Linked DNA regions of Homo sapiens: all the other regions are linked to region 2. Evidence: fine-mapped expression QTL. A gene starts in region 2. Each other region holds a variant in brackets. All regions are shown on one strand. Distances are from middle to middle. Region 1 overlaps WWC3 (WWC family member 3). Region 2 holds the start of WWC3 (WWC family member 3). Region 3 has its middle 19 kb from the start of CLDN34.

Region 1 (10,012 bases), 90 kb before region 2:
TCACCCATCTTCCCTCACTCCTTCCCCCTTGTCAATCACCTCCTGCTTCGGAGCAGAGGCTCCAGAGACCCAGGGAGCAGAAGGCAGTGCCCCCCACCGCATGCCCCTCCTAGGCCAGGGAACATCCAGGCAGGAGAGGCTCTGAGTGATCATCAGGAACACCCTCCAGCCACACACAAGCCACCCCGTGGAGTTTTTCCAGCAGGCTTTCCGCTGGAGGTCGTGTCCCCGCTGACCCACCTCTCCGTGGCGCCCTGTGCGGAGGTGGCCCGTGCACGCCGCAGCTCCTCCTCTAGGCGCTCCCGCTCCTCCTCCAGCCGGGCCACATCTCCCGCAGAGCGGCGCTGTGCAATGATGAGCTGAAGCTCCTGCAGCAGGGCCTCCTTCTCCTTGATGAGCTGCAGCCGGTCCCTGTCAGCCTCGGCCGTGCTTGGCCAGGACTCATTGTCAAGCCGGGCCAGCTGCTGCTGGATGTTGGCGACTCTGCAAGAGAGACGGGGAGGAAAAAAGGACATCGGCGGACTGAAAACGCCGTCTTCACACCTTCTCCACGTCTCACACTGATTCTATAAACTCCTTTTGCCAAATAAGTAGTGAAATGATTACACCAAGTGACCCTTACACTTAAAAGGATATGGAAACAATGTCCTAAAAAATGGTGCAGAAGTCTTTTCCTGAAGCTCCCTTAGCCTGAGATTCGAGATGAAAATAACCCCATCGTGCCTGTTCCGAAGAACTGACAAAAAGGCCAGCAGCCCTCAACATGCCCATACTCGGCGGCTCAGACTCCTGGTTTCCTACATGAAACTGTCCCAGAGCAGGAGGGAGTCTGCTTGTTTCTTCTGCCCACCCTCATCAGTAGCTAAACAGCATGCTGGACCCCCAGAAGTGCTGCCGGCCTCCCGCCTCCTCAGCTGTGTCTAACCACTGTCAGCCGCTTTAGCAAAATAACAAAGGAGAAATGCACTCATCATCTGGCGTCCTGAAGGAAAGACCTTCGAAGCCCCATGCTCCGCGTCTTCTGGTTCTGTGTGCTCCTTCCTGCACCAGAGCCCCTGGCCATACATGAATTCAAAACACCTTGCGGAGAGCAAGTGGGCACTCGACAAAAGCTGAGTGCATTGAACAGTGAACAAACACGCCTGCAAATATGTGAGAGGAAGAGAGGCAGCCCTGTGAGCATGGATGCTGGTGAGAGATGATCTGGGTGGATGCAAAGCGCAACAATCCTCAAGGTGGAAAAACAGAGGCTCCTATCAGTTTCCATGCCTCGAAATTTCCAAGTGCTTGCTTGGCAAACAGACTGCATTACTTTTTGTGTCATGAGGTGCTGTTGAATGCAGATTAAGTGAAACAGATGTGGCCTGTATTTTTAAAGCATCCTTTAAAAGTAAGAGTAGAATGTTTTAAGCCCTTTAAGTAGGGTTAAAGATCAGGGATATGTTTCTAGGGAGAAACTAGGAATGGCAAACTCAACCTGAACCCCATGCTGTGGAGGACATAGTTGGCATACTCGCCCAAAAACAAAATCCAGAGGCTTCTCTGAGATCACAAAGAGCTGTGAGAACAGGGAAGTGGCAGGCACACGTGGCCCTATATCCTCCGAGGGAGATGCAGGGCAGAGGTGCTCCTGAGACTGCCTCCTCCTGTGCCCGCGGTCCACGGCACTAACCAAGGCTGGCTTCCCACCTGCTGGGTCTAGACCTCAGAAGCCTTCTCTACACTATGAGCCATGTGGATATCCCCAATTGACTAGCATTGCCACACATGTTAAAACCTGCCACCCAGCCTTGTGCCAAGTCAGGCTCCACCTAAACTAGACACGAGCACATGGACTCATGAGGATCGGGCATGACTCCCTCTCTAGCCACCAAACGAATCTGAAAGCCCACAGTTAAGGAAAGAAACGGGTACACAAGTTACAGTTTAAATGTATGCATTTTACTCAAGTCCACTTCAACAAGGTAAAGACACTAGTTGAATGTCAGTAGCTTTATTAGACAAGTTATTTTCTAACTTAAAACTAATGTCTGGAAAACGTGTTGGAAGATGGTGCCAAACCATGTCACCAGAAAAACTAATGACAGAGGCAGCTGAACAGGGCTAGGACTCCAACTGGGCTTAAGCATCCACCTACGTCTAATTAGTGTAATTAAAATTTATGGCAGTCATATATCCAAAGCCCAAGGAAAATACACTCCAAGCAAACCCACAAATAAGTCAGTGCTAAATCAGACATTATACCCAATGACATTTCTGGAACATTCTACAGTAGACCAAGACAAGTTAAGAAATAAATATAAAAGATGAAGAACAATCAGCAAATCTGTGTCCTCATACTTTTTTTCATTTCCATTTATCTGATCCACAGGAAAGTCTGAGCCCAGCTAAATTTTGCCCGACCATTTTATACTCATACTAATTACCATACATATAATATAAACAGAAGTATTTTACAGAACACTCCTTTTGAGTTTTCTGAGCCTTAAATATGAAGAGATCAAGATTCCATTTGAGTCTGCCAGCTCTAGGTTAGCTGCTAGCCTACAAGGATTCAAGCTGTTGAAGGTGGCGGAAGATCCAATTCCAGATAATCACAACCTTTCCAGGAAAATCTCAAGTAATATGCACTGTCAGGAAAAAAAGAATGAGGAAAAAAATGAATTATAGGAGGGAGGAGAGGCAAAGGGTGAGTTTCAAAAGACCTGTCTGCTGCAGGCATAAAGAAACAGAACAGCAGCCCAAATTAAACCATGTCCTGTCACTTCCCACAGCTGGCAGGAAAAATATGCAAGGACAAACGGCAAGGGACGACCTCTCCAGCAGAAACAAAATCTGCAACCCATCTGGAAATGTTTGGGCTGTGCTGAATGCTAGGCAAACATTTCTGTGCCTTCCAATTGTGGGGTTTAATAATAAAATTTCAAAACAATGCAACAATGCAAACAATCTCATCTTCATTTCAGAGCTATATATGAATCTAGAAGAAACTGGAACATATTGAAAAGTTCAATTTCTTTCTTTGTCCCCATGTTCTAGGTGTGAACATTTGGGGCCTGCTTCAGCAAGGTCGAGAGAGGCACATCTGTCTGTCTGTCTGTACTGGAAGCCAAAAGCACTAGGATTCCTTCAACAATCGATTGTTCTTATGTCCCCATGAGACAGACAAGACGGCTTTGCCTTTAAAACCGTATGACTTGTCTACCTTGCCGTGGGCCGGAAACGAGCCATCTGCAGGGAGTATCTTTAGTACGTTAGGTTTACTTGAAGAAACAGACTTCCTGCCTAAGGCTAAACACAGATGTACTGAGTTTCAATGCACCTTCTTCTACATCCACGCCAAACAGCTGATCCACTGGTTGGAGCCTCGCTCCTGTGAGTGCTGTTGTTCCAATTTTGGGTATTAAAGGAAAAACAATTTCCAGAAAGGCTTTTCTTTGAAATATCATTTCAGTGAAATTAAATACATGGAAGTAAAGCAAGGTCATGGTTAAAGTTTGCAAAACAAAATAACTTTCCCGAGTTTTTTGTAAAGAGAACTAATAGCAGCTTAAAATTAGAGAGGATTTTTTTTTTTTTCTGTGAGCCAACTATATTCTTCAGTGATTTTTATTTTTGAGGGGTAATGCATTTTATGGCCTATATAAAATCTCTCCCAAATGCCTTTAAAAGCCTTAAAATATATGCCCCCGTGTCCTGATAGTGAAGAAAGCAAATGTTCAATCAAGCATGCAGGTTTCTTATTTATTATGTGTTTCCCAAATTCTATTCCCTGAGCAGGTCTAATGTAGACAGACATAAAATATGAATCATTTTTCCCTTATGATTTTTGCTCAAACACTTTTCTGTTACAACCCAGGCACCATTAAACCATGCATTTATGCCGCAGAAACTATTTAGACTCTCACAATTCACATGAAAATCTTAAATACGATTTGCATTTTTATAGGAAAACAATGCACTTTCAATAATAAAAAGTTCTGAGGCATATCAAGAATAATCCCTAATTATTTGAATTTATACCAAAAATCTGCAGTCTACAATATCATTTCTCATGGTCCTAAAATCCTGCTGCTTTCTGGAATAGCAAGCAGAACTCTGGACAGCCCACGGTCCTATCCCATGGTGATGAGTCGTGAGGGATCCCAATGGCACATTCCAGGACGCGGGGTCAGCTTAGAGCCTCATACCTTCAGATTGCAATTACGGCTACAGGTTCGATACTCCTTACATTTTCTCTTAGTTTTCTTGTTGTAAATACCCATTTAAATAAAAAGCAAAGGTTAAAGAAAACAGCTGAGATGTAAGTCAGATGGACAATGAAATCACTTCAGCTGATTGAACTAAACCAGCGTCCATTCTACTCAACTCTTTATGTCAGAAGTTTGAGAAGTCTGAATCTAGAATATGTGGGATAAGAAAGGTCTACTAATACACCAATATCTCACCCCGTCCTCAGCTTCCCAGCCCTGACATCTTCTCCCTTTGCAACAGACAGATCTTCAGAGAGCAACTTCATCAAATAAAAAGCAGTGAGTCTACAGGCTTCTCCGTGTTGACCAGAATAGGGAAGACAGAGCCACAGTGGCAAAGATGCTTTTCCTTATTTCTCACAACTGTGCCCCACCCCTAAAACCCAGATAGGAAGTCATTTGAGAAATGAAAAAATCCAAGTGATTGATCAAATTCAACTGGAATCATAACACTACACTGATCCTCGACAACTGATGAACAGCAGGACTGATCCTGGCAACAAAAACTAAGAGGCAGAGAAACTGGATGGACCGAATGTTTTGTTCCTATCTGGACTGAGAGTGTTTCTATGGTAACAGCTACAGTTTGTGCACAGTTCTGGAACAAGCGCCCTTAAGTTAAAAATAAGGAGCCATCTGC[G/A]TCATCGGGATTGCTTCAAGAAGACTTGCTCTTTCAACTTCACTTTTAAAATTTCTGAAATTTTAAAATCAATAGTGTGAATATTCCTATCATTAGGTCTGCCTTGGGAATCCGAAGAGGCGCTCCTGAGGCAAGGTGCAAGCAGTCCTTTTGGTACGCTTCACAGGACCCACAGTTAAAAACACAAAACTAGTCATCATGATAGTGGTCGTTTGGCCAGAGAATTCTCTAGAAATCACATCACCACTCAGAATTATGAGTTCCACTTCCACAAACTTCCTTTAAATCTGAATATATATGAAATCCAGCTGAGTGGGGTGGCTCACACCTGTAATCCCAGTACTTTGGAAGGCTGAGGTGGGTGGATCACTTGAGGTCAGGAGTTCGAGACCAGCCTTGGCCAACATGGTGAAACCCCGTCTCTACTAAAAATACAAAAATTAGCCAGGCATGGTGGCACGTGCCTGTAATCCCAGCTACTCAGGAGGCTGAGACACAAGAATCGCTTAAACCCAGGAGGCAGAGGTTGTAGTGAGTCAAGATCACGCCACTGTACTCCAGCACTCCAGCACTCCAGCACTCCAGCCTGGGTGACAGAGCGAGACCCTGTCTTCAAAAAAAAAAAAAAAAAAAGGAAAGAAAAAAAATCTGAATGTATATATATATATGAAATCCCTCATTGTCCAGAATTCGGCATTTTTGACAATTTCCCACATCTTAAAAATAATCTCAAATATATATGTGCAAGGAAAGACGTCCAAAATGCCTAAGGCATAAAATCCTCCACTGTTCAGAAGTGGCAAAGCACAGGAGGTTCTGCAGAGGATATACATGATGGTTTACTTTGTGTGTCAACTTGCCTGGGCTAAAGCTTGCCCAGATAGCTGGTACAAACATTATCTCTGAGTGTGTCTGGGAAGGAATTTCTGGAAGAGATAAGCATTTGAATCAGTGGACTGAGCAAAGAAGATCCACCCTCACCAATGTGGGTGGGCACCATCCAATTCATTGAGGGACTGAATAGAGCAAAAGGGTGGAGGAAGGGTGAATTCTGTCTGTCTTCTTGAGCTGGGACATCCACCTTCTGCCCTCAGACACCAAAGCTCCTGGTTCTCAGGCCTTCAGACTCTGGGACTTACACTATGACCACCCACCCACCCACCCCACTCCACACCCCACCCCACCCCCAGTTCTCAGGCCTTCAGACTTGGACTGAATGAGACCACTGGCTTTCCTGGGTCTCCGGCTTGCAGATGGTGGGACTTCCTGGCCTCCATAATTGCGTGAGCCAATTCCTATAATAAAATAATCTCTCTCCCTTCTCTTCCCTACCCCTACTCTTGTTGGTTCTGTTTCTCTGCAGAACCTAATACAGTAGGGAAGGTAAGCTTGCAGGGTGAAATGATTTCAGGAATGAGAGCTGGGAGATTAATGTCCAACGGCGAAGTAGCAGAACGAAAAGACGACACTGAATTGTGGCACTAATCTAATAGAAGTTCACCTGGGCAAGAGGAAAGGGCACATGATGTCCCTTAGGCTTGGAATGAGGGAGCAGGGAAGAACGCATTATTCTTTGCTAACACTGCCACTAAGAGCAACGTGTTCTTTTTCATGCTTTGGTGGGTTGATGGGGGTACATGATGCCTTCCTGCTCATGGCACACCACTTCTCCAGGGACGCTCACAGGGATATCAGAGACATTATCTCCCAGCCTGATCAAGGGGGCCGAGGAAGAGACCATGGACGGGACCTCAAAGCCACCATGCTTTGCCTGTGGTACTCAGCACCTGGCTCCTGGAATGTTAATGTTGAGTTCTTGCCAGAGAACCACTTGCCACTGCTCTCTCCCCAAGTCTGTATCGTTCTACTCTCGTGCCTCACTTAGAGGCAGTCCATCAGAACACTCGGAAAACACCATTGTAATGAAATCGCTCATCTGGTGCTGGGGAGACCTGATAACATCAACCCTTCCTAGCCTTCCATCTGTCTACAGGGATGGGGCAGAGGGGAGCCAAGACTATCCTGACAACGCTACAAGGTATGTAAAGTCTAGGGCCTTGCCCAGGCTGCTAAGGGTTATGTGACCTACAGCTGAGTAGTTCACATGGCAGGCATGCACTTACTGGTCAAGCCTTAGCTACAGTAACCAATGTGGAATGACTGGAGGCAGAAACAATCACACCAAGGGGACTGGAGACGTGCACCGCCGCATCTGGGAACCAGAGCCCGGAGGGAGCTGCAATCAATGACTCAGCGAACTGCAATCTCCACTGCGGACTCCACCGACAAGAACACTTCATGGATGTTTCTCAGCAGCTTCAAGTCCACTGAAAACACCAAACTCATGGTCAAAACCAAGATCTGCCTTTCAAATGACCCTCCACTTTACTGTGAGCCTCTGGAAACCCTGTTTAGGGTCATCCTTCTCCTTTAATTCCAGGGAGAGCACCATCTCAGTCACACTTCCCCCAGGCCAGTCCAATTTAAGAAAGGGGATGTGCTGATGGCAACAATTTAGGACTGCCAGCTTGTTATTTTGCCAAGTAAAGACTTTTGGAAAAAACCAATTCACATCAATGATCATCATTAGTTAATTAAGAGAAAGATGTTTTAACAGAAAAAAATATATATGAAAAAATGTATATTAAACACGTATTATAAATATAATATATAAAAATATACAATAAATATGTATTAAATATATATAAAACATATATTAATTATATATATTTATATGTATGTATGTACATATGTATGTATCTCTGAGAATGAGAGGCTTCTTTGACTGGAAAGCAGCGAGTTGGCTTTAGGAACACCTGCCGCTGGCCCTCCTTTTTCCCATGCACTGTGGACTAAGGACACCTCAGGCTGGGCTTGGGAAGCAGAGGCCTGCCTGTCGGCCAACGGTACCACCCCCTTTTCGTTCCTTCACAGCCACTGGGCCCGTGGACATAAGTGTCTTCTCAGGTGTACTTCCTCTTCTTGTTTCCTCCAGCCCCAGCCATCCCCTCTCGGACCTTTTACTACACCCCTCTGGCCAGTCTCGTCCTCGCCAGGCCTTTGATTGGACTTCCTCAGGCTCAGTCCTGGCATCTCCTCTTTTCTCCCTGTGTTCCATCTCCCAAGGTGAGCCCAGCTGCTCGGTGACTTCATCTCTATGCCATCTGGGTTCCTCAAATGGCCCTCCTCCACATACCACCATCTGAATGGCTCACACTTAATCTTTCCAACTCAAACGTCCCAGCATGCCCAGCAATTCTGACCCCTCTTCGGGGCATCGTGGCCCCCATGCCGTGGCCTGCCTCCCTGCTCATGCATCCTCCATTCCAGCCTGGCTGGCCTTTGCTCTGCAATTCCAGGCCAGTCCAGCTGCTGCAGAGTGACACCTTACCCCCACTCCTGACCCCCACTCTTACCTGAGAAAGCCCATCCCCAATGGACGGCGACTGGAATCCCAGCACTCCTTCAGGACCCAACTCCAATGCCATTTTCTCCAACCCCCAAGGAGAGGATTAATTATGGAGTTCAAAGGCTAGTAGCCCTTTTGAATGTCCATGAAGGCCCAGAACTGTTAGTCTAGCTCGGTGTGTTGACGTATCACACCTTGAACATAGTCCTTGAAAGGGAGAGACAGTTCCTTGCCTACCTCAGATCCCTAAAGGCACCCATGTCTTGAAGCCCTTTCCCTTCTCAAGTCAAGGCGAGAGACCCCAAGGCTCACACCTGGATGGAGGTTTGAGGAAGGGACCCAGGAGCAGAGCAGTTGGCCTGGAGCTGACCTGGCCCCGGGACTGCCCTGGCTTGCCCCGTCCCAGGGGCAAAGGCCAAATAGCAAATGCAACCACACGGGACCCTCATTTACTCATTCAATAAATATTCACCAAGTATGTAGCTGCTGGGCTTACAGCAATGACCTACAATCCCTGCACTCATGAGGGTTATTTACATTTTCACAGGGAGAGACAGGCAGTAAGAAAAGTAAACACTGGTTAGGTAATAACATTTGCTCAGCCAATCAGGGGGACCGGGGTGAGGACAGGGTGGTGAGGTTTTATTCAGGATGGTCAAGGAAACCTCTCTTAACAAGGTGATCAAAAGGAGAGGTCATGTGACAATTTGGAGAAAAGCCACCCCATTCCAGACAGAGAAGACAGAACAGGCCAAGGGCACTGTATGAGTTTGCTCTTTTCTGCCCCAAATTACCACAAGCTTAATGGCTTAAAGCAACACCTATTATTCCCTTACAGTTCTAGAGGGCAGAAGTCGAAAATGGGTCTACAGGGCTGCGTTCTTTCTGGAGGTTCCAGGGGAAAATCTGTTTCTTTGCACCTTCCAGCTTCTAGGGGCTGCCCGTGCTCCTTGGCTCCTGGCCCCACACTATTCTGATCTCTGATTCCAACCTCACATCTCCTTCTCTACTGCCGACCGTCCTGTCTCTCTCTTATGAGGACTCTTGTGATGACACTGAGCCCACCTGGATCATATAGGCTCATTTCCCCATCATCTCAGGATCCCTAATTTAATTACATCCACGAAGTCCCTTTTGCCATGGAAAGCCACATCTTCACAGGCTGTGGAGATCAGGATGCAGACACCTTGACGGACCATCATTCTGCCAGCTGCAGATGCTAGGTCAGGAGTTGGCTCGGTGGGACTGAGGCCCGGTGGGAGGCCCGAGGGGCTGCTCAGTGCAGGCGTGCTTGTACATCTGAGGAACATCGAGGGGCCGATTGGCTGGAGCAGGGTGAGTGGGGAGCAGGCTGATGCCTGTGAGTCAGCAGGCGACCTGCTCATGTAGGCCCCTTGTTGTCCATGCATCGTGAAGATTCAGGAGCAAGACAGGAAGAAGCCCCAGGGCGAGGTTTCTGGACCTTGGCACCGCGGCCATGCTGAGCCGGGTAAGTCTTTGCTGCGGGGGCCATCCTGTACACAACAGGATGTCAAGCAGCCTCCCTGGCCCCTGCCCTAGAGTTGGGACACCTAAACATGTCTGCAGACACTGCTGGAGGTCTCCTGGAGGGTGAAGGCCTTGCTCCCTGTGTGGAGCCCCACTATGCTAGTGGGAAAAGGACAGGCAGCACCTGTGCAGGCCCACCCAGGTGGAGTTTAAAAGAAATCT
Region 2 (10,592 bases):
TATAGATGGACTGAGTGGATCATCCTATAGATGATCTTGCTTTTCTACTGCTGGAAAAGCACTAGAACCCCTCACCCAGAAGGATGGGCAAGGAAAAAGACAACCCCAGGCTCAAGTGAGCCCACCTTTTCTCTGAAGTGATCATTATCCGAGAAACTGAATCAATCCTGGGATGCCTTGCAACTATTGTTATCTTCATTTTATGTGTCTGTGTGCCACCTCCCAGACCAGCTTGGTTTCCACATACTGTCCCTGCACACAGAAGGCCAAGACTCTCCACAAATATTTCTTCACTTTATTAAACAGGGATAACTGAACTCAGTAGAATTTAACTTTGCTTTTATTCCATCAGATTTGTTTTATTGAATTTATGGGAAAGATAGACACCATTAGCAAAAGGATCTGGAATGGAAGTCAAGAAGCCTACCGTAGGCTCACCAGATGACCATGAACATGTTCCTGACCCATGGGCTCCTGAAGTAGAACCTAACTAGAGATGGTGATACGTGTTATTTCCACTTCCCAAATCAGAGTGAAAGGAAGGAGAAGGAAACTTGGAGATTTCCAAACATCCAGGAGCTATTTTTGGAAATGAATTACTTTTCCTTTCACTTTTCTTTAAAAAATAAATAAATGAATAAATAAATAAACAAATAAATGGAAGGAAAGGAAAAGACCAAAAAATGTTAGACCAAAAAATGAGGATTGATGATCTAAATGGAAGCAAGAGCCGCTTCTTCCAGGGACTGACCCCTTACAGCCTTAAAAACAAGATGCTCCCCCATGTTCATACAAACACTATCTATAACCTTAAAAAAAGAAAAAGGGAGAAATCATTACCTGTTTATCAGAAAGCTCAACCAGGACAGTTTATATAGTCCAAAAATAGACTCTGTGGGATGAATATAGTAAACCTCCTATTAGTTAATACTGAATAACTAAATAAAGGTTCCAAGAAGGTAGCAATGATGTTATTTGGCTGTTAAATGGGGATCCAACCTAGCAAATTCCAGAGCTATGGATTGTTTTCCTCTTAAAGCAAAAGCATCTTCAGAAGACTTTTAAGATACCACAGAATTCCTCCATGAAGCACAGGTCAAATCCCATCTGGTGAACAAATGGGTCCCCAAAAGCTTATGCCATGACATGATCTTGCTCTTCCGCCATCCGCATGATTATTTATACTTTGATCTCAAATATGGTATCGTCCACCATACTTAAGCTGCCCAGAGCTGGCATTTCCAGTACCGTACAACTCCACCTGAGCTACAGGAAATGGAACATGAGGTTTCAAACACTCAGTCCATCTATAGGATAATACCCAAATAACCCTGCAAGACACACACGTAAACACAACTGTCAAAGACAGTGAATCTTTACAAAGGGGGCAAAAATGTTCTTCCCATATTTTCTGCCCAATGGTAAATACCTTTTCATAAGGTGGTCAAGTTATTCTGAGTTAATATATTCAGTTAAGATATTAGTGTGCCACTAATGTAAACCACACAAGACTCATGTAAGGAAACTACCAGCCATAGAAATAAGTTAACTTTGTAGTTTGTTTTTTCGTTTCTTTTTTTTTTTGGTGTGGGGTTTTGTTTCGTTTTTTGAGACAAGGTCTCACTCTGTCACCCAGGCTGGAGTGCAGTGGCATGACCACGGCTCACTGCAGCCTGGATCTCCCCAGCTCAAGCAATCCTCCCATTTCAGCCTCCTGAGTAGCTGGGACTATAGGCGCACGCTACCCCGCCCACGTAATTATTTTATTTGTTTGTAGAGACAGAGTCTCCCTATGTTGCCCAGGTTCGTCTCGAACTCCTGGACTCAAGCAATCTTGCCCCCTGGGCCTCCCAAAGTGCTGGGATTACAGGCATGAACCACCACGCCTGGCCTAACTTTGTAGTTTTTAACCAAGTTCTTGGGTATGATTCCCAGTAAACTAACTATGAAAATTATATGTACAGTATCAATCTATAGAAATAGTGAATTTAAAGTGAAGGTAGGTTTTTTCGTTTGTTTTTTGAGACAGAGTCTCTCTCTGTCACCCAGGCTGAAGTGCAGTGGCGCGATCTCGGCTCACTGCAACCTCCACCTCCAGGGTTCAAGTGATTCTGCTGCCTCAGCCTCCCAAGTAGCTAAGACTACAGGCGCACACCACTACGTCCGGCTAATTTTTGTGTTTTTAGTAGAGACAGGGTTTCACCACGTTGGCCAGGCTGGTCTTGAACTGACCTCAAGTGATCCACCCACCTCAGCCTCCCAAAGTGCTGGGATTACAGGCATGAGCAACCACGCCCAGCCAACCAAAGGTAGGCTTATAATCAAACTAAAAAATTGTTTTTAAAATATTGAGATTGTGTATACATCTGTAGCCACATCCGTAAAGACGTCTCCTTGTATCTTCTTTGTTGTAACTTTAAAAAGCAGTTACAATAATTTCACCAACAGGCTCTGAGCCGGCACTATCAAATGTTAAACACAACACTGAATGGAATTACTATAAAACTCAAGAAGAGATTTTGTTTACAATCCTTGGACCATATTTTATGCTATACAGTTTTTACTAAAGTTTATATGAAATTATGTTTAAAGTCAACAACAATTTTCACTTAACCTACTACATTCATTTATTCCACCACAATTTCATTTTCTTAAAGAGAAAAAAAAAGCTATTATGTATTTGCCTTTCTCCTGTCAGGTCTCTATGTGGAAGCTGTTTGGTGAAAGTCCTCGTATTTCTTGAATACCATTTTCCTGTGTGACTCAAAAGCAACTCAAAAAGGGTTTTAACTGTCAGATGCGCATGGAGAAAACACTGCCCTCTGACATGCAGTTCTTCCCATATAATAAAAGTTAATTACAACTTTAAAGGGTAACCCGCCACCTATAAAACTCGGCCAGGTTCTGTTTTGAAAGAGGAAGAAGAATGACTATTACAGCCTTCAGCCGACTCCACTTAAATGTTTGTGGCTTGCTGAACATTCCATACATATTTCGGGCAAGGTATTATGGGAGCTGAAGTTCAAGCTGTCCCCTGCTGAATTTTCACTCACTATAAAAACAACGTCTCATAAAAGTACACACGTTTTTACTTTACAAAAAAAAGGTAAAATATCCACTTTTGTTGACTCAATTGACAATTTTAGCATCAGAACGGAGACTTTTTAAAAACCTTTAAGTGATTGTCTGAAAAGTAACAAATCGATTTCTGGAAAAAAGGAATATAGGAAATGTGTCTGAAATACATGGAAAACAAGATTCTCCAAGCTGATTTCTGTATGGTCCATTCACGTTTGTCACAGGTTACACCATTAAAAAGAAAATCCTCACATTGATATCTTTCAGCATGAATCTCCACTCCAATATAACCACAACTGTTTTATATTACCCTTGGAAAGTGAGCCTTAGCCTTTTCTAAGCAAAACACTATTTTAATTGGTTCATTTTCCAGTTGTTTGGGTTTTTAACATACATATGGTATAAAAGGGCACTGCATTCCAAGCAGTTCTACCAATTCCAGAACCATCCAAGGGTTGATCAAACAGCTGGGGCTCTAGCCTTTGGTTAAAATTATAACATGATCTCACCTGATTTTCAAAATAACTAGGCATCTTTTTAACCCATAAAATTGTACTAGGATTGATATAGGTTTCTGAGCCCAGAGGTTTGCAATGTTCAGCGAGAATGTTAGGGAATCACGATCTTTTTGTTTTGCTTTCTTTTGTTTTCCCCTGCTTGAACTCAGAGAAATCTTCAAACAATTCAGCAGCTTCTCTCCTCAAAAGTTTATTTTCAGACGCCAGTGCCATGCAGGCCGCCTTCCCTGTGCAGGTAGGAGGAAGCAGGCACAATGTCACCACACTGGGCCTTTGCAAGTCTTCAAATCACTGGGAAGCCTGTGGTGTTTCCTTTTTGGCACTCAGGCCCTGGAAGGAGAGTTGCTCTAGAGAGGACAAGACATCAGATAACCTGTGGAAACACTTGATGTCCACAGAAATCCCAATTCCACACAAAATACATCTCTGTAAAAGCAGTTGAACAATCGAAACCCGTAGACAATCGAGCAAAAAGTTAAGGAAGAGCTTCGTTACATGGAATTAATTAAATGAAATCTGATAGTGCTTTTACAAGAATCAGTTTTTACTTGATTGGGTTTTTATACGTGAATAAGACAGCTTTGTACCCCATGCATATCTTTCACAAAAAGGAAACTTAAAATACAATTCTTGTTTTTCGTTTATTCCAAAAGCATATGGGACTAATCATATTGCATTCTGGCTGCAGTACAGAAGGCTATTTCAAACAGTTTTAACTCACGAGTTTTAAGGCGCTAAAGAGCAACTAGAGTTTGGGAACAGACTTCTCCAACTCCAAAAGGGTTGGGAATCCCTCAAGGGCCCGTCTGACATCAGGTTTTGGATGGAAACCAGCCTGAACCCGCCAGACAGGGAACCCGCACCCCAAAGCTGGGGCGCACGTTTGTGATCCAAGGTGACAGCTCATCTCGCCACCGCGGGGCTGGGGACACCTGCAGAACCAGGGCCGGGGCAGTGGGCCGCAGACGCCCGGGACCGGGATGGGCGAGGCTGCCGCAGAGAAAGGAAAAGAGGGCCATCTGTCAGCCCCAGGAGAGGAAATTCCAGGAGCCCAGTTCCCAGGCGCCGGACAGCGGGTGACGTGAGGGAACCGAATGAGAGGGTCCGCCCAGCGGCGGGGGACCTGTAGGCGGCCGGCCTCGGCGCTCAGAGGGCTCGAGGCCTGGAGAAGGGGCACCTCCATTCTTGGTCAGAGCCCTGGGAGTCGGGGTATTGGGAGGGTGGATCCTCTCCCGGACCCCCGGAACCAAAGATCTTCACCCAGCCCCGAGGGCCTCCTGGTGTCTCCGATCCTCTCCCTGGGCCCAAGGGATGGGGGCGCCTCGATCGTAGCCTGGACCGGAGCACTCCAGGGAGTCCCCTGGTTCCGGGGATGGAGGCGCTCCGAGCTCTGCCCGGGCCCGGGGGCTCTCGGCGGCGGCCCCGCGCTGGGCGGGGCGTGTCCCCAGCGCATCCGCGGTGGCGCCGGCCGGCGGCCCGGGTCGTAGCGCCCGCGCCGGGTCTGGCGCCCCCAGCCGGCCCGCTTACCGGTCGCGGGGGTCGATCCACGACGTCTGGCGCGTGTTGTGGTCAATGTAAAAGACGCGACCGTCGTAGTCTCGCGCCTCCTCCCAGCCGGCGGGCAGCGGCAGCTCGGCGCTCTCCCGGGCCCGCGGCGGCGGCGCGGAAGGAGCTGGGGGCGTGGGGACCGCGGCGGGGGGCGCCGGCGGCGCGGTTCCCGCTGGGGCTGCGCAGAAGGCGGCGGCTCCCGCGGGGCCTCGCGCGGCTGTCCCCGCCGTCGCCGCCGGCCGCCGCTCAGCCAAGGCATGACGGCGCGGGCCCCGCCGCCGCCCGGCCGCCCCGCGCGCGCCGCCTCCTCCGCCAGCACTAAGGCCCGGCGCCCGGGGCGCGGGGGCGGCCGCGGGGAGCCGCCCGCCGCTCCTGGCGCATCCTCCGCCCGGCGCCCGTGCACCGGCGTCCGCCCGCCCGCCCTAGCAAGCCGCTGCCCGCGCCGCCCACTCCGTTCAGGTAGCCCGGGTGGCCGCCGCGCGCGAAGTCACAGCCCGGGAGCCGCCGCCGCCGCCGCCGCCGCTGCCGGCCGCCCCTCCGTTCCCGCGGCGCGCCCGGCCATCTTCGTTCCTCGGCGCGGCCCGGGCGAGCAGGGGCAGGGCGTTCGCAGGCCCCGCCTCCGGCCGTCCCGCCCCGTTCTCACCCAGGCCCCGCGGCTCCTCCCACGCCGGCGGCTCCACCCACGCCGGCTGCTCCTCCCGAATCTCCCACGGAGGCTCCCGCTCCTCCCGCCGCCTCTGCTTTTCCACCCACTCCCGCTGCTCCGCCTCCCCCGGCCCCGCGTCCTCCGCGCCTCTCCGTCGCCGGCTGCTCCGCCCCCAGTCTCCCTCGGGGTCCTCCTCGGCGCTCGGCTCCTCGACCCCACCCCCACCCCTCCGCTTGCTCCTCCCCCTCCGCCGTCCTCCCTCTCCGCGCGCTCCTCGCTCTCTCCCTCCCGCTCCGCCACCTTCCTCCGGCCTCGGGAAACCGCATGGAGGCCAGGATGGGCGCCGCCGCGTCAGTCCGCCCCCGGGCCCCCGCGTAGAGGAAGGCGGGCGGGGAGGACGACGCCCTACCCGGACTGCGGGCGCGGCCTGCCTGGGGTGACTCCTCGGGCGCAAACAATTCCCGAGAGAGCGGGCAGTGCCCTCCCTTCACCCGCTCCCGGGCTCTGGCTGTCTGGAGACCCTCTGCGCACTTGGCGGGAGGCTGCGCCCTCGGTCTCCCACACAACCCGTCTGGTCCCGCGAAGGTGGGAAAAGCCCCTGAAGGCGGGGCCGAGGGAGCTGAGGAGCTGGGGGAGCCCGCGGCCGGTCCTCTCGGGCGGCGCAGGGAGGACGCCTCTGGAAGCGGGCAGCTGGGCAGGTGGCCACTTTGCGTCCCCGCCAGGACAGCCCTAGAAGGGCTAACCTGGGGGCCCACACTAGGCGGGAGTTCCTTGACCTTCCCTGAGCGCTTCATCCGGTTTGTGGGGTCTGATCGTTTGAGCGGAGACCCAAGTAGACCATTGCTGGGGAGGAAGCCGGGTCAACTCCTAAAACTTTCAGCCTAGACGGGAACTTCTGTTTCACTGGCTCCCAGCTGGGGAAGCTGAAGCTCCAGAGTTGGGGCTGTGTCTTGCTCTAAATCTCCCACCTACTTCGTGCCCCAGACCCACAGCCGCAACACGTTATGCCAGGAAATGCAGGACAGTATCAGGGAGATTTTTAAACAGTTACAGTGATACAAAAATATCTGGTAGAGCCTGATTGAAATCCAGATACACAGGGGAAGAGACTGGAGGAAAATGTCCTGAAATGCTCACAAGAGTTTGCATTCCTTTGGCGGGATTTTTAAAAATGATTTGCCTTCCAATTTTTTGTAAAATGGTAATATTACTTTTATGAGGGGAAAGGTTGTTTTAAAAAAGAAGAATGGGCCGGGCGCGGTGGCTCACGCTTGTAATCCTAGCACTTTGGGAGGCCCAGGCGGGCGGATCACGAGGTCAGGAGTTCGAGACGAGCCTGGCCAGCATGGTGAAATCCCCGTCTCTACTAAAAATACAAAAATTAGCCGGGCATGGTGGCGCACGCCTGTAATCCCAGCTACTCGGGAGGCTGAGGCAGGAGAACTGCTTGAACCTGGGAGGTTGCAGTGAGCTGAGATCGCGCCACTGCACTCCAGCCTGGACGACAGAGTGAGACTCCATCTCAACAACAACAAAAAAAAAATTAGAAGAATGTGGGGCCGGGCTCGGTGGCTCACACCTTTAATCCCAACACTTTGGGAGGCTGAGGTGGGAGGATCACTTGAGCCAGGGAGGTCGAGGCTGCAGTGAGCCGTGTTTGCACGATTGCACTCCAGGCTGGGCGATGGAACAGAGACCCTGTCTCAAAAAAAAAAAAAAAAAAAAAAAAAGAAGAAGAAGAAGAAGAAGAATGTGAAGTTGTGAAGGTATAGCGACGTCCAAAAAACTATCCAAGGAAGGTCTTTCCTCTCCCTCCTCCTACTACAACACAGAAACTTTCTTGCTCCCCAAGTATCTATCTACCCCTACCTGAATGTTCTATGTGAGAAATTCCACCGCATGAGTCCTTTTAAACATGTGTGATTATTACATGTCCAAGGGAAAGAGTGGGAGGGTCAAAAAAGCACATATTTTGTGATGTCGCATGTGCCAGGGAATGCCCCAAGTGCTGAGTGTCCCTGCTCTGACATCTTCCCTTCCGATTGGCATGATTTATCGCCAGTGGGGCTGCCACTGCCTTCTTACCTTACCACCCAACATGGCCGTTCTGAAGCTGCATTTCCACCCTCCCTGTCACCTGGTCCTTTTAGAATCTCACAAATCTGGACACAAATCTATCACTCGAAAGTACTTTGAATGGGGCTGGGGCGTATTGGAGTGAAACCGACTTCTGCAGAGAGAGAGTGGAAAGAGGAGAACACATACACCACACATCAAAGGACTCAGAAGGAAAGGCAAGATGAAAAAAGCATCAGGTAGAGCAAGGAGTGGGGGAAACTGCATCCAATTAGGAGCTCAAAGAGGCCAGCGCCGAGGAGTCTTCACTGAAGGTGAAAGATTTCTACCCGTTCAGGCGGGCAGCAAATAGTGGACCTCCCACGCGCAGACACTGTGCTGCGTGTAGGCATGCTGCAGGGAAGAGGATAGTCTGTGCTTCAGCTTGCACTCCCTTGGGGACTAAACATAGAAATAGGCCCTTGTAATACAATTGTCACTTGTCAACAAATGAAGCCAGGGTGCCAACCTCAATTTGGGGACTCGTGGGAGGCTTTGTGAGACCAAAGGGAAGGTGCCTCAGATGAGGAAACTGAGGCTCAGATGTTCAGATTCCCAAGTTCTGAGCTCTTGCCCCTTGGCACATGGAGCTGCTGTCATGAAATTGTTTACTTGTATAGCAGATGCTGGGGCGGGCTCCCTTCTTTTGGAGTATTGTGAAGATGACCCTTCATTAACACAGATGTCTGAGAGATTACACCCAGCCCCAGGAGCTGACCGTCCAGTTTCCTTGCCTTGGTGACACAAACTCGAATGCCCTTGACACCCCAGAGCTCCCCATGGGATCCCCCATGGGATCAGGCTGAGGCTGTACTTCTCTGGAAATCATAGCTTTGCCAGCTCCTCCCCTGCCCGGTCCCGCCTCCCTTACTCGTGTAAGCATGCCTCCAATCAGCCGCTCACTCGAGAACCCCCGTCTCAGGCACCCTTTCTAAAGAGCCTGACCTAAGATAGGCTCCTGCACACTTACTGTCATCTAAGCACTTAGCAAATACGAGCTCATTTAATCACCAAAACATCTAGAGGCATTCCTACTTTCATTTGCACATTAATAGAGGCAAAAGAAGTGTGACACAGCATGCCAGAGAAGAGAGATTGGAGACCCTCACTGAGAAAACTTCATCCACATGCCCAGCCACTGCCTCTGGACACTCTCTGCCTGAGAGAACAGAAGTGGGGCTATTGCATTTGTCTTCCTAAAAGGAGCTGAACCAGAGAGGAAGAGGCCAGCGCTTGGGGTGACCAAGACCTCTTTATTACACCATTAGTCCTTTTCCACTTGTGTGCAATGTTAGCCCCAGGCGTTTGCTGATGGTCCCTAAAGACTTGTGAATGGAGATGGAAAGGAAGAGAAATTGGTAGGGGTGTGAAGGGACTCTTGACTTCCCAGCTTTGCCATAAATTGGGATCGATCTCTCTCTCTCTCTCTCTCTCTCTCTGTCTCTCTCTCTCTTTGTGTGTGTGTGTGTGCGTGTGTGTGCGTGTGTGTGTGTGTGAATTGTTAGAATAAGGCCTGTCTTTCTTACAGTCAAGTGGGGCTTTCCACATCGGACTAAAAACCACACACACACACAAAACACTGCAGGGCGAAGGAGTCTTGAGTCCTAACTGAATGCACAATTCTACATTCTTTATTTCCTCCGCATTAAAACCACAGCCGGGCCAACAGCAAAAGCACGAACATTGTGTAGTGCTCCATCCTCCCACCAAGACTTCACATGGAAAAGCAGCTCAGGAAAAATCCACTTAGTCTCTGGGGAAAGGAGATGCAAATGCTTTTGTTCTCCTCCCAGACCCTCTGGGAAATCCCCTTTCTGAAGCTGTTACAATGCACTGATCTCTAACTTGCAGAATACTTTCCTTAAAATGATGGTTAAGGAGTAACTCCAACAAGGACAGAGTCTGAAGATTTTTACTATCAGATTCTGCCTTCTCTCCCCAGCCCTCGCCTAAAGGATAAGCTTTATTTGTAAAAAGGAAAGTGCAAAATTGGATCCATACACATTCAGTACTTGATAAGCGTCTAGAAAAGGAAAATCTGTAAAGGCTACAATCATCAAGTGTAAAATGAGAAAAATAAACACCGCCAGAGAAGTCTTGCCTACCTTGTATAAACAATCAAGTGTTCTAGGAAGCGACACATTGGGTAATTCTACACATTGTGCTAAGAGGAAAACGGAAATGGGCCGGATTAGGTCTGAAGAAGAAATGGTTCATTGTTTGGCATTCTTTAAATGCTAGAATAATTACTCAATTATGGGTGTTTCTCATATATTTAAATAATGCAAATCCACAAGCACTGGAGGAGATTAGATGTTGTTCTTGTTCATTCCTGTCTTGCTGGTTTAGGGGCATCAAAGGAAGGGTAAATTGCAAAGATCCCTAAGGGGACCCTCCCCAGGCTCAGGAGTTGGAATGGGGACAGGGTGAGGTTATTTCTTGGTGTTTTATTTCATGGCTTTATGTAAAGACGTAAACTTTAGACACTTATTTGACTTGTATTAAAAAAAGTCACTGTTTAGATTTCGTGTGTGGACGGGGGGCACTTTTCTCAACTGGGACTTCCTTGATTTGTGTAGATGCGTCCATTTTGAAAATTCAGGTTTTTCTCATGTCCTAATCTTCCACTCCAAAGACAGGCAGGGTATTCCCAAAGCGTCCACTGTGTGGATAAACCTGCCAGTCTG
Region 3 (10,592 bases), 29 kb after region 2:
AGGTCTTCTGGAGCACTTGCTGCTGCACCCTGCACTTTTATGTTATGGAGACGGCTTCTTTCCTTAAGCTTCATGAACTAGCCTCTGCTAGCTTCAAACTTCTTCAGTAGTTTCCTACTATATACACCTACTATGTACTCGCAATCATTGTTTATGTATTATTTACTTATTTATTTTTTGAGACAGTCTTGCTCTGTCACCCCCGCCAGAGTGCAATGGCACAATCTCGGCTCACTGCAACCTCTGCCTCCCGGGTTCAAGTGATTCTCCTGACTCAGCCTCCCGAGTAGCTGGGATTACAGGTGCCTGCCACCATGCCCGCCTAATTTTTGAATTTTTAGTAGAGACGGGGTTTCACCATGTTGGCCAGGCTGGTCTCGAACTTCTGGCCTAAGGTGATCTGCCCACCTCGGCCTCCCAAAGTGTTGGGATTACAGGCATGAGCCACCGTGCCCGGCCACAAACTTTTTTTTTTTTAAATTTTAAAAAGCAAACAATTGTATGGGGTGGCACATTTTGCTTTAAAAACATGTCATTTCCTGTTTCCAGCACACATCTGTGAACATGAAGATAATTTCAGAGTGTTAATCTTGGTTATACCTGAGTAGTGCCACAACAGGTGATTTAGAGTTTTATCCTATTCTGTATACCAACTTTGCAATAAATATATAGTAATTCTTTCATAAAAATTAACAATATAATGAATAATTTGCTTGTGCAAGTAACATGTCAAAATAAACAACTGAGCAATGAACAGCAATAGTGTTCAATTTCAGGACAAATACTGTACTCGGAAGGGCTTATGCTGCCACCTTGCAGAAGAATGCTTTATGAATGTAGAGTAATTTATAAAATCCAGATGTGTTCATTATTTATAACTTTTATTAAAAATTCATACATGCTCAGTATAGAACAAAGAATCCATAAAAGTACAAAGAAAGAAAAAATTACCCATAATTTCACTTTACCATTGACTCAAGATTCTGAGTTCCTAGGTAGGAGAGATACACAAATCAGGGTATAATAGTTCTCTCAGTATAAAGTCAGCTTTTCTGCTATTTAGGTGCTAATCTTGGACATGGTTCTTATACTTGATTCTTGCTTTGTTTACCTAAAATCAAGTTTCTTCATTTATACAAATATCTAGTAGTTTGACCCTTTGACCCTGTTCAGATATTCAGATATCTTGGTTGCTTTAATTTCTTTTCTTTTTTTTTTTTTTTTTTTTTTGAGACAGAGTTTTGCTCTCGTTGCCCAGGCTAGAGTGCAATGGCTCCATCTCAGGCTCACCGCAACCTCCACCTCCTGGGTTCAAGCAATTCTTCTGCCTCAGCCTCCCAAGTAGCTGGGATTACAGGCACCCATCACCACATCCGGCTAATTTTGTAATTTTAGTAGAAATGGGGTTTCTCCATGTTGCTCAGGCTGGTCTCGAACTCCCGGCCTCAGGTGATCCACTTGCCTCGGCCTCCCAAAGTGCTGGGATTACAGGCGAGAGCCACCACGCCTGGCCAGTTCTTTTCTTTTCTATTAAAAATAAATGTTGCCATGAACATCTCACACACACACACACACATACACACACACACACACACACACCCACAGACATACCTTGGATATATTGCAGGTTCAGTTCCAGACCACCAAAATAATGCAAATATCTCTATAACCTGAGTCGCATATTTTTTTTGGTTTTCCAATGCATATAAACATTATGTTTACTCTATATTGTAGTCTTCAGTGTGCAATAGTATTATGCCTTAAAAAAATGTAGTATCCTAAATTAAAATTACTATATTGCAGGCCGGGCGAGGTGGCTCATGCCTGTGATCCCGCCACTTTGGGAGGCCTAGGCGGGAGGATTGCTTGAGCTCAGGAATTCAAGACCAGCCTGGACAACATGGCAATACCCCATCTCTACAAAAAATACAAAAATTAGCCAGGCGTGGTGGTGCACACCTGTAGTCCCAACTATTCTGGAGGCTGAGGTGGGAGGATCGCTTGCGCCCGGGTGGTTGAGGCTTCAGTGAGCCGTGATAGTGCCACTGCACTCCAGGAGTCTGGGCGAGAGTGAGACCTAGTCTCAAAAAACAAAAAACACTTTATTGCTAAAAAATGCTAAGGATCATGTGAGCATTTAGTGAGTTGTAATCATTTTGCTGGTGGAGGGTCTTGCCTTTATGTCGCTGGCTGCTGACTGATCAGGGTGGTGATTGCTGAAGGCTGGGTTGGCTATGGCAATTTCTTAAAATAACACAGCAAGGAAGTTTGCTGCATCAATTGGCTCTACCTTTCACAAAAGATTTCTCTGTAGCATGCGATGCTTTTTGATAGCATTTTACTCACATTAGAACTTCTTTCAAAAGTAGAGTCAATCTTTTCAAGCCCTGTTACTGGTTTATCAACTAGGTTGACATAATATTCTAATCCTTTGTGCAAGTAACATGTCAAAATAAACACCTAGTCAATTAACAGCAGTAATGTTCAATGTCAGACCAAATACTGTGTTCTGAGACAATTTTTGCTATTTTGACGTGCTTATGCTGTCACCTGGTGGAGAAATGGAAGAATCCCACTAATTTATCAACTAAGTTTATGGAATATTCTAATCTTTTGTTGTCATTTCAATAATGTTCACAACATCTTCACCAGGAGGAGATTGTGTCTTAAGAAACTACTTTCTTTGCTCATCCATAAGAAGCAACTCCTGATCCAGGGACAATGGCTCACACCTGTAATTCCAACACTTTGGGAGGCCAAGGCAGGAAGGTCTCTTAAGCAGGAGTTCGAGACCAGCATGGACAACAAAGTGAGACCCCCATCTCTGCAAAAAAAAAAATAAACTATTAGCCGGGCATGGTGGCACATGACTGTAGTCTCAGCTACTCGGGAGGCTGAGGCTATAGTGAGCCGAGATCACACCACTGCACTCCAGCCTGGGTGACAGAGTGAGACCCTGTTTAAAAAAATTAAAATAAAAGTAGTACTTGGATATTGTTTTTAAAAAGAAAGAAAAAGCTCAATCAATGCATGGAGTATGAACAAGTAAATAAAAATCACCTATAATTTCATCATAGTTAACATTTTAGCCCATTTCCACCCCATCTTTATCCAGCTCATATTTTTCAAGCTGGAATCTTCTTTTATATGCATTTTGGTTTTTGTTGTTCTTTGCTCTGTATTTTTCCCATTTTATTATGAACCTTTTTTTTTTTTGAGACAGGGTCTCACTTTTTCACTCAGGCTGGAGTGAAGTGGCGTGATCATAGCTCCTTGCAGCCGTTAACTCCGGGGCTCAATAGACCCTCCTCCCTCAGCTTCTTGAGTATTTGGGACCACAGGCATGCAACACCACATCCAACTAATTTTTGTAAAAATTTTTAGTAGAAACAAGGTCTCCTTATGTTGCCCAGGCTGGTCTTGAACTCCTGGGCTCCATCGATCCTCCCGCCTCAGCCTCCCAAAGTGTTGGGATTACAGGCGTGAGCCACTGTGTCCAGCCAAAAACTTTCCCATATTAAACAAGGTTGAAAAAATTTTAGCGAACAACTCAAATACCACCCAGATTCTCTCATTAACATTCTACTGTATTTTCCTTTTTCTTTTTATTCATTTTTCTGCTCTGATAAGAGGCAGATTACTATAGTCTTTTTCATGTACCTATTCATTTGTTCATCCCTCTATCCATCCATCAATCCATCTTATTCTTTCATACATTTCATAGTAAATTGCAGACATCAGTACACATCCCCCTAAGTTTTCAGCAAGTATGCCACTAACTAGAGATTGATATGTGTTTACACTGGTTTTCTTTGGATATAAACTTTACACTTAATAAACTGTAACAATCTTAATACATGCAGGTTTTGCTCATTTTTTGCATTTGCCGATTTTCATAAACATTTTGCTTAGCATCACATTAAGCCAACAAATTAATCTCAGAAGGTGGAACAACTTTGCAAAATTTAATTTCCCCATCTGGGACTGGGGACATGTCTCCATGGCTTCTTTTGGCTCTTACTAAGGTTGAGCAGTTTGCAACATACAGGGTCTTGCACATTTCATATTAAGCTTATTGCTAGATATTTGGGAGTTTATTGCTTTTTTGTGTGAAAGTACTCTGTTTCAATTCTAATTTCAAACTGGCTCATTGTGTAGGAACACGAAAAGATTGTTGATGTTTGTGTATTTAGTATCCAGCTATATAATTGAACTTTCTGTTGTAGTGTAATAACTTTTCTTGGACTTTTTTTAGGTATAGGGTCAACTTAGCTGAACAAAGATTCACACACCCTTCTAGGATAATTATACCTCTTTTCTCTGTCTCCTGACTTACAGCACCCTGGCTAGAACTTCCAGAACAATCTAGCTGGGCGTGGTGGTGTACGCCTGTAATCCCAGCTATTCAGGAGGCTGAGGCAGGAGAATCGCTTGAACCTGGGAGGCAGAGGCTGCAGTGAGCCAAGATCACGCCATTGCATTCTAGCCTGGGCAACAGACTGAGACTCCGTCTCAAAAAAAAAAAAAAAAAAAAAAAAAAAAGGAACTTCCAGAGCAATCTTACGTAACTTTG[G/A]TAATGACAAGTTTTCAAGTCTGGTTCCCTATTTTCAGGGAATTCTTCTAATGTAGTGATTCACAAGTGTGGGAAGACCAGGGTCAGTGAAGGGGGTGCTTTGCTGGGGGGAGGGTGGATTTGAACAAGGCCCCACAGGCGATCCTGAAATGGCCCCCACCACTCCAAGGTTAGAAAAAACTGTACTAATCCTTCATCGTTAAAGATATATTTAAGTGTTCGTTTAAGATAGACAGCATTGAATGAAGTGTCTTTTGTTTTTTTAGTTTACAAAGGGTGCTTATCGGAAATTAATGTGGAACTCTCTCGCTCTTTCTCTCTTTATATATATATATATATATACCAGTTTTACTGAGGTATAATCCACATACTGTACAACTCGCCTGTGTAAAGCATACAATGCAGTGGTTTTTAGTACATTCACAAGGTTGTGCGACCATTGTCACCATCAATTTCAGAACATTTTTGTCCCTCCTAAAACGACCCCTGTGCCCATGAGCAGTCACTCCCCATTCCCCTCTTCCCAGCCCCTGCCCACCATTCATCTACTTTCTGTTTCTATGAATTTCTCTACTCTGGACATTTCATATAAATGGAATTGTACAATTTGTGGCCTTTTGTGTCTGACTTTTTTCACTCGACATCATGTTTTCAAGGTTCATCCACATCGTGTTTGCAAGGTAGTGGTAGGAAAACAAAAGCTGTTTCCCGATTTCTTCCCACCAAGTTCAGCTGTTTCAATGATCCTATGACGAAGATTGTGCCACAAGGAATAGCCTTGTGGATGTGACAGTTACCATCCACGGGCCCACTGTGTCCTAGTGGAACTCCATTCAGAGCCTGGGTTTGATGACCTTATGGGATTTCTTCTGGACCTTTCAGTGAGGACTCTATCACTACACGGTCCGTCGCATCTGGCTTACTCACAGCTACCCAAACCCCACCTCGGCTGTAGTAGCCAGGAAGTTGAAGGCCTGAAGTGCATTTACCAGCCAAGGTTTCAGCATCTCGTCACACACTGCCTCAGTAGCTTACGAACAACATGAGAGGCCTCCGTGAGCACGGGAAGTTGCCCAACGGAGAAGTGCAGGTGTCCCCTCCGGTCACCGCATTTGCTTGTCCTCTGTTTCCCAGTAACCCCCACATCCCGGCACTGCTGCCCCTCCATCTCTCTTCCTCTCTCCCCACGGCTCTGCCATGCCCCTGATTTGGGCCATCACCACCTCTCCTTGGAATTGCTGTCCCACCTGTCACCAGCCTCTGCCTCCAGCTTGGCAAGGCTGCCTGACAAGAATGACCGCCAAGGCCTCTGGTGCCTGATCCAATCTTGCCCACCTCTTGAGGCCAGATTCCTTCCAGGTTAATGGGGGCAGAAAGAGAACTGTGAGCTCCCGTCTGTGGGGATCTCACTCATGCACAGGTTGAGAGCCAGAGTGGCATTCATGAGCAGAAACTTCTTTTCCTGGTGTAGGTCTGTGAACAATCCCTCAGGGCACTTTCATCAACATGTCATCGTCACCAGAATCCATAGTTGACATTAGGGTTCATCCTTGGTGTTGTACATTCTATGGATTTGGACAAACGTACAATGATATGTGTTCATCATTATGGTAGCATACAGATAGTTTCACTGCCCTAAAAATCCTCTGCAATCCCCTCTTCATCTTTCCTTCTTCTCTAGCCCCTGGAAACCACCGATTGTTTTACTGTCTCCATAGTTTTGCCGTTTCCAGAGGGTCACACTGTTGAACTCTTACCGTCCGTAGCCTTTCAGATGGGCTTCTTTCACTGGGAAATATGCATTTAGGGTTCCTCCATGTCTTGTCATGGCTTGATAGCTCATTTCTTTTTGTGCTGAAAAATATCCAATTGTCTTAATGTATCACATTGTTTATCCACTCATCTACCAAAGGACATCTTTGTTACTTCCAAGTTTTGGCAATTATGAGTAAAGCTGCTATAATCATCTGTGCGCAGGTTTTTCTGTGGACGTGAATTCTCAGCTCATTTGGATAAAAACCAAGGAACACAATTGTGGGATCATAAGGGTCTGTCTCTTCTAATTCAAAATGATCCCAATCTCTGGTTTTAATGGAAGGTGTGGGTAATTAATTAGATGTTTTCTCTGAAGGTAGGTTTAGGAATGATGGAACCAGATACAGATACCAAACCCTGGAAGAGACAATACTAAAGAGAATTTAAAATAATTAAAAGTGAAGAAATACTCTTTTTAAAAACTTGATCAGGCCAGGCGCAGTGGCTCATGCCTGTAATCCCAGCACTTTGGGAGGCCGAGGCAGGCGGATCACCTGAGGTCAGAAGTTCAAGACCAGCCTGGCCAACATGGCTGAACCCAATCTCTATTAAAAATACAAAAAATAGCCGGGTGTGGTGGTGTGTGCCTGTAATCCAAGCTATTCGGGAGGCTGAGGCAGGGAGAGTTGCTTGAACCCAGGAGGCAGAGATTGCAGTGAGCCGAGATGGCACCACTGCAATCCAGCCTGGGTGACAGAGCGAGACTCTGTCTCAAAGAAAAAAAGAAAAGGAAAAAAAAAAACAAACCGTGATAGATGACTCTAATGTCTAATAACTCCGTATCCCAAACTGTTTACCTTTTGGAAATAAAATTGCTAAAATGCATGCCTTTTATAACCAGCAAGAATTCTCCCAAGCCTGCATACCTGTCTCAATCTGCTGGTTCTCCCACCTGGCTCTGTATTGGCAGCAGGTTTTCTATTGGGCCTATTTTGATGGTAGGTATTCATCTGCGTTAGTTAAGGGTGAACAATAGCAGCCCAGTTACCAAGTAACCCGATTTAATAAGCAGCTGCATTCTGGTTGGTTGACAAAGGACTGAACTAATGGTTGCAGACCAGCTGGCACGAACTGCGGCGAATCCGTCAAGATGTCAATCTAACGAGCCAGTCCTGTTGTGACCGAGAGACAGTTTCCCCAGAATAACTTGGGCCTGGAGAGCAGGATGAAAAGCAGGGCGATCTGGCTGATTCAAAATGTGGGGCTCTTGGCCTCTGTGGCTGGCCGCGTCTGTTCCCTGGCATGCCTCAGTGGCCTGCCAAGTGCATGCCTCAGTGGCCTGTGTGTGCATGCCTCAGTGGCCGACTTTCTCCTCGGGTTTACTCGAGAGTGAGAAGTACATGCTGGGCCTTTGGGAAGCATGTGTGACTCGAGACACAGGTGCCAGTGTGTGCCAGCCCAAAGAACCTGGCTGCCAAACTCCAGGTGGCTCGTGTCCTCACGTGCGTGGCCGGGGCTGTGGGTTCTCTCGGGCTTGTGGCGGTCATCCTGGGACTGATGTGGCTGAGATGCTGGGGCCGAGGAGGAAGTTCTTGGGAGAGAAGTGTCAACATTGCTGGGGGAGCTCTGGTTTTTCTGGCCGGACTCACTACTTGAGCGTCCGTGTCCTACGTTGCCCATATTACCGTGTGGAGGTTCTAAAGCTCAGAGTTCCCACCCAACAAGCCCCGGGGGGATGCGGCAATGCCATGTCCAGCGGCTGGATGGGTGGATTTCTCCTTTCCACTGGAGGCCTTCTTTTGATCACCACACAGCTTTATGCCAACACACTGGCTGCAAAACCAACACCTTTTCCTTCATACCCGGACTTTTCAAGAAAAGTGACTTTTGGTAAAGTAGAATTTGTTTAAAAATGGACCAATCAGAAAGGCAACAGTGAAAGTGGAGAAACCATCTCATTTTGGTTTTCTGCTGAGAAATGATGGAAGCTTGGTTTGCTAGGTGAAGTGGATGGGTCCAAGCTACCTGACGGAGAGAAAACCAACAGTATTTGCTAATAGATTTGACGATGGGGGGAGGGTACAGGAAAGTATATCAGATCTGTGGAACCACCTGTTTCTGAAACTACTACTTGGACAGCCTGATTTATTTTTTAAGCTAGTTTGAGTTGGTTTTCTCTAACTTTCCATTTAAATTTCGTTAAAGGATACAAAATGACAGCTAGATTGGAGAAATAAATTCTAGTGTTCTATACCAACTGTTAGATGACTAGAGTTAAAAATAATAAATAGTTTTGAATAGCTGAATTCAAGAGACTGAGGCAGGAGGATTACATGCGCCCAGGAATTTGAGGCTGCTATGAATTGTGATTGTGCCACAGCACTCAGCCTGGGCGACAGTGAGACACTGTCTCTAAAATAAATAAATAAATAAAATAATTAGAAAATGAAATTAAAATTAGAAATATATAGCTAAAAGGAGGATATTGAATGTTTTCAACACAAAGAAATGATAAATGTTTGAGATTACGGATACACTACTCACCCTGATCTGATTGCTGTACATTCTATGTATTGACATATCACTATGCACCCCAAGAATATGTACAATTATTATTTGTCAATTAAAAAATAAAATAGAAATAAAAATGGACCACTAACCTCAAACTTTTTTTTTTTTTTTTTTTTTTGAGATGGGGTCTCGCTCTGTTGCCCAGGCTGGAGTGCGGTGGTGCAATCTCGGCTCACTGCAAGCTCTGCCTCCTGGGTTCTTGCCATTCTCCTGCCTCAGCCTCCTGAGTAGCTGGGACTACAGGTGCCCGCCACCACGCCCAGCTTATTTTTTGTATTTCTAGTAGAGACGGGGTTTCACCATGTTAGCCAGGATGGTCTTGATCTCCTGACCTCATGATCTGCCCGCCTTGGCCTCCCAAAGTGCTGGGATTACAGGTGTGAGCCACCACGCCCGGCCACCTCAAGCTTTTTTAAGAGTGTTTCCAGCCAGGTGCAGTGGCTCACGCCTGTAATCCCAGCACTTTGGGAGGCTGAGGCAGGAGGATCACTTTAGCCCAGCAGTTCAGGACCAGCCTGCGCAACAAAGGGAAACCCTGTCTCTACAAAAAACCAAAAAATCAGCCAGCTGTGGTGGTGTACGCTGTAGCCCGAGCTACTCCAGAGGCTGAGGTGGGAGGATGCTTGGGCCCTCAAGGTAGAGGGTGCAGTGAGCTATTACTGTGCCACTGCACTCCAGCTTGGGCAACAAAGTGAGACCTTGTTATTGCAGGAATTAAGGGACAGTAGAGACCAATGGGTGGGACAGGAGGATTTATTAGGTGCGCACCGGCCCAGCAGATTAACATCCAAAGGCTGAGCCCCGAACAAAGACAGGGCTTCACTTTTATACATGCATCCAGAAGGGGGTTGGCCAGTTTGATAGCACAAAACCTGTAGGGCAGGCAAGCAAGCTTACAGAAGCAGAACAAAGGCAGTTTGTTAAACAGTGACAGGCCTTGCAACTTAAAACATATCTTGTGACCTTGCCGTGCCACACAGAAGGGAAAAACAGGAACTTACAAAACTTGCAAAAATAATTACGAGAACAGAACAAGGAACAAAAAAATTGTTTTTCTTTTTATATCTTCTGCTTCATTGTCTCTTAAAAAAGAAAACAAGATCTGATATACTTTCCTCTACCCTCCCCCGTCATCAAATCTATTAGCAAGTACTGTTGGTTTGCTCTCCCTGTTTCCAATGGAGAATGTTTCCAATGCAGAATGGAGACAAGCAATTGTTTTGCTTGTCTTCCAGAAATTGAGTTTCTTTCTCTCCTCTCCCCTTTCTTTGTTTTTCCTGCCACAGACTGGCCTAATTGTAATCTGTTGTTGCTTGCTATTAAGTGTCAATTAAAAAGTTTCTTTGAGGCCAGGTGCCACAAGGCCTGTAATCCCAGCACTTTGGGAGGCCGAGGCTTAAGCTCAGGAGTTCGAGACCAGCCTGGGCAACAATATAAAAAATTAGCCAGACGTTGTGGTGTGCGCCTGTGGTCCCAGCTCCTCTGGAGGCTGAGGTGGGAGGATTGCTTGAGCCCAGGGGGCAGAGGTTGCAGTGAACCAGGATTGCACCACTGCACTCCAGCCTGAGTGACAGACACTATCTCAGAAAAAAAAAAAAAAGTTTCCTTGAAGGAGTGAATTTATGCTCAATTTTCCCACTTGAAAATCAAATATCACACCCTATGAGAAGTCAGTTTGTCCCGTGCCTGAAAA

What was found. PIP is the estimated chance that this variant, and not a neighbour inherited with it, causes the effect.
Region 1: its variant is fine-mapped to the expression of WWC3 in thyroid (GTEx, PIP above 0.99). The same link has a PIP of 0.9 or more in tibial artery.
Region 3: its variant is fine-mapped to the expression of WWC3 in whole blood (TOPMed, PIP above 0.99).

The regions. Positions count from the first base shown.
Region 1 is chrX:10,100,249-10,110,260 of GRCh38, reverse strand. WWC3 (WWC family member 3) reads right to left here. Exons shown (of 24, transcript NM_015691.5): 10 at 241-483. Among named protein-coding and RNA genes, the nearest start is that of CLCN4, 52 kb to the left of the region's middle. RefSeq lists enhancers at 1-124, 125-842. The variant G/A (reference allele first, on the strand shown) is at 4,894.
Region 2 is chrX:10,010,390-10,020,981 of GRCh38, reverse strand. WWC3 (WWC family member 3) reads right to left here and starts at 5,728. Exons shown (of 24, transcript NM_015691.5): 1 at 5,309-5,728; 2 at 5,124-5,306. The coding sequence starts at 5,403. RefSeq lists silencers at 5,756-5,815, 5,856-6,025 and enhancers at 5,846-6,729, 6,730-7,613.
Region 3 is chrX:9,980,919-9,991,510 of GRCh38, reverse strand. No RefSeq gene overlaps it. Among named protein-coding and RNA genes, the nearest start is that of CLDN34, 19 kb to the right of the region's middle. The variant G/A (reference allele first, on the strand shown) is at 4,574.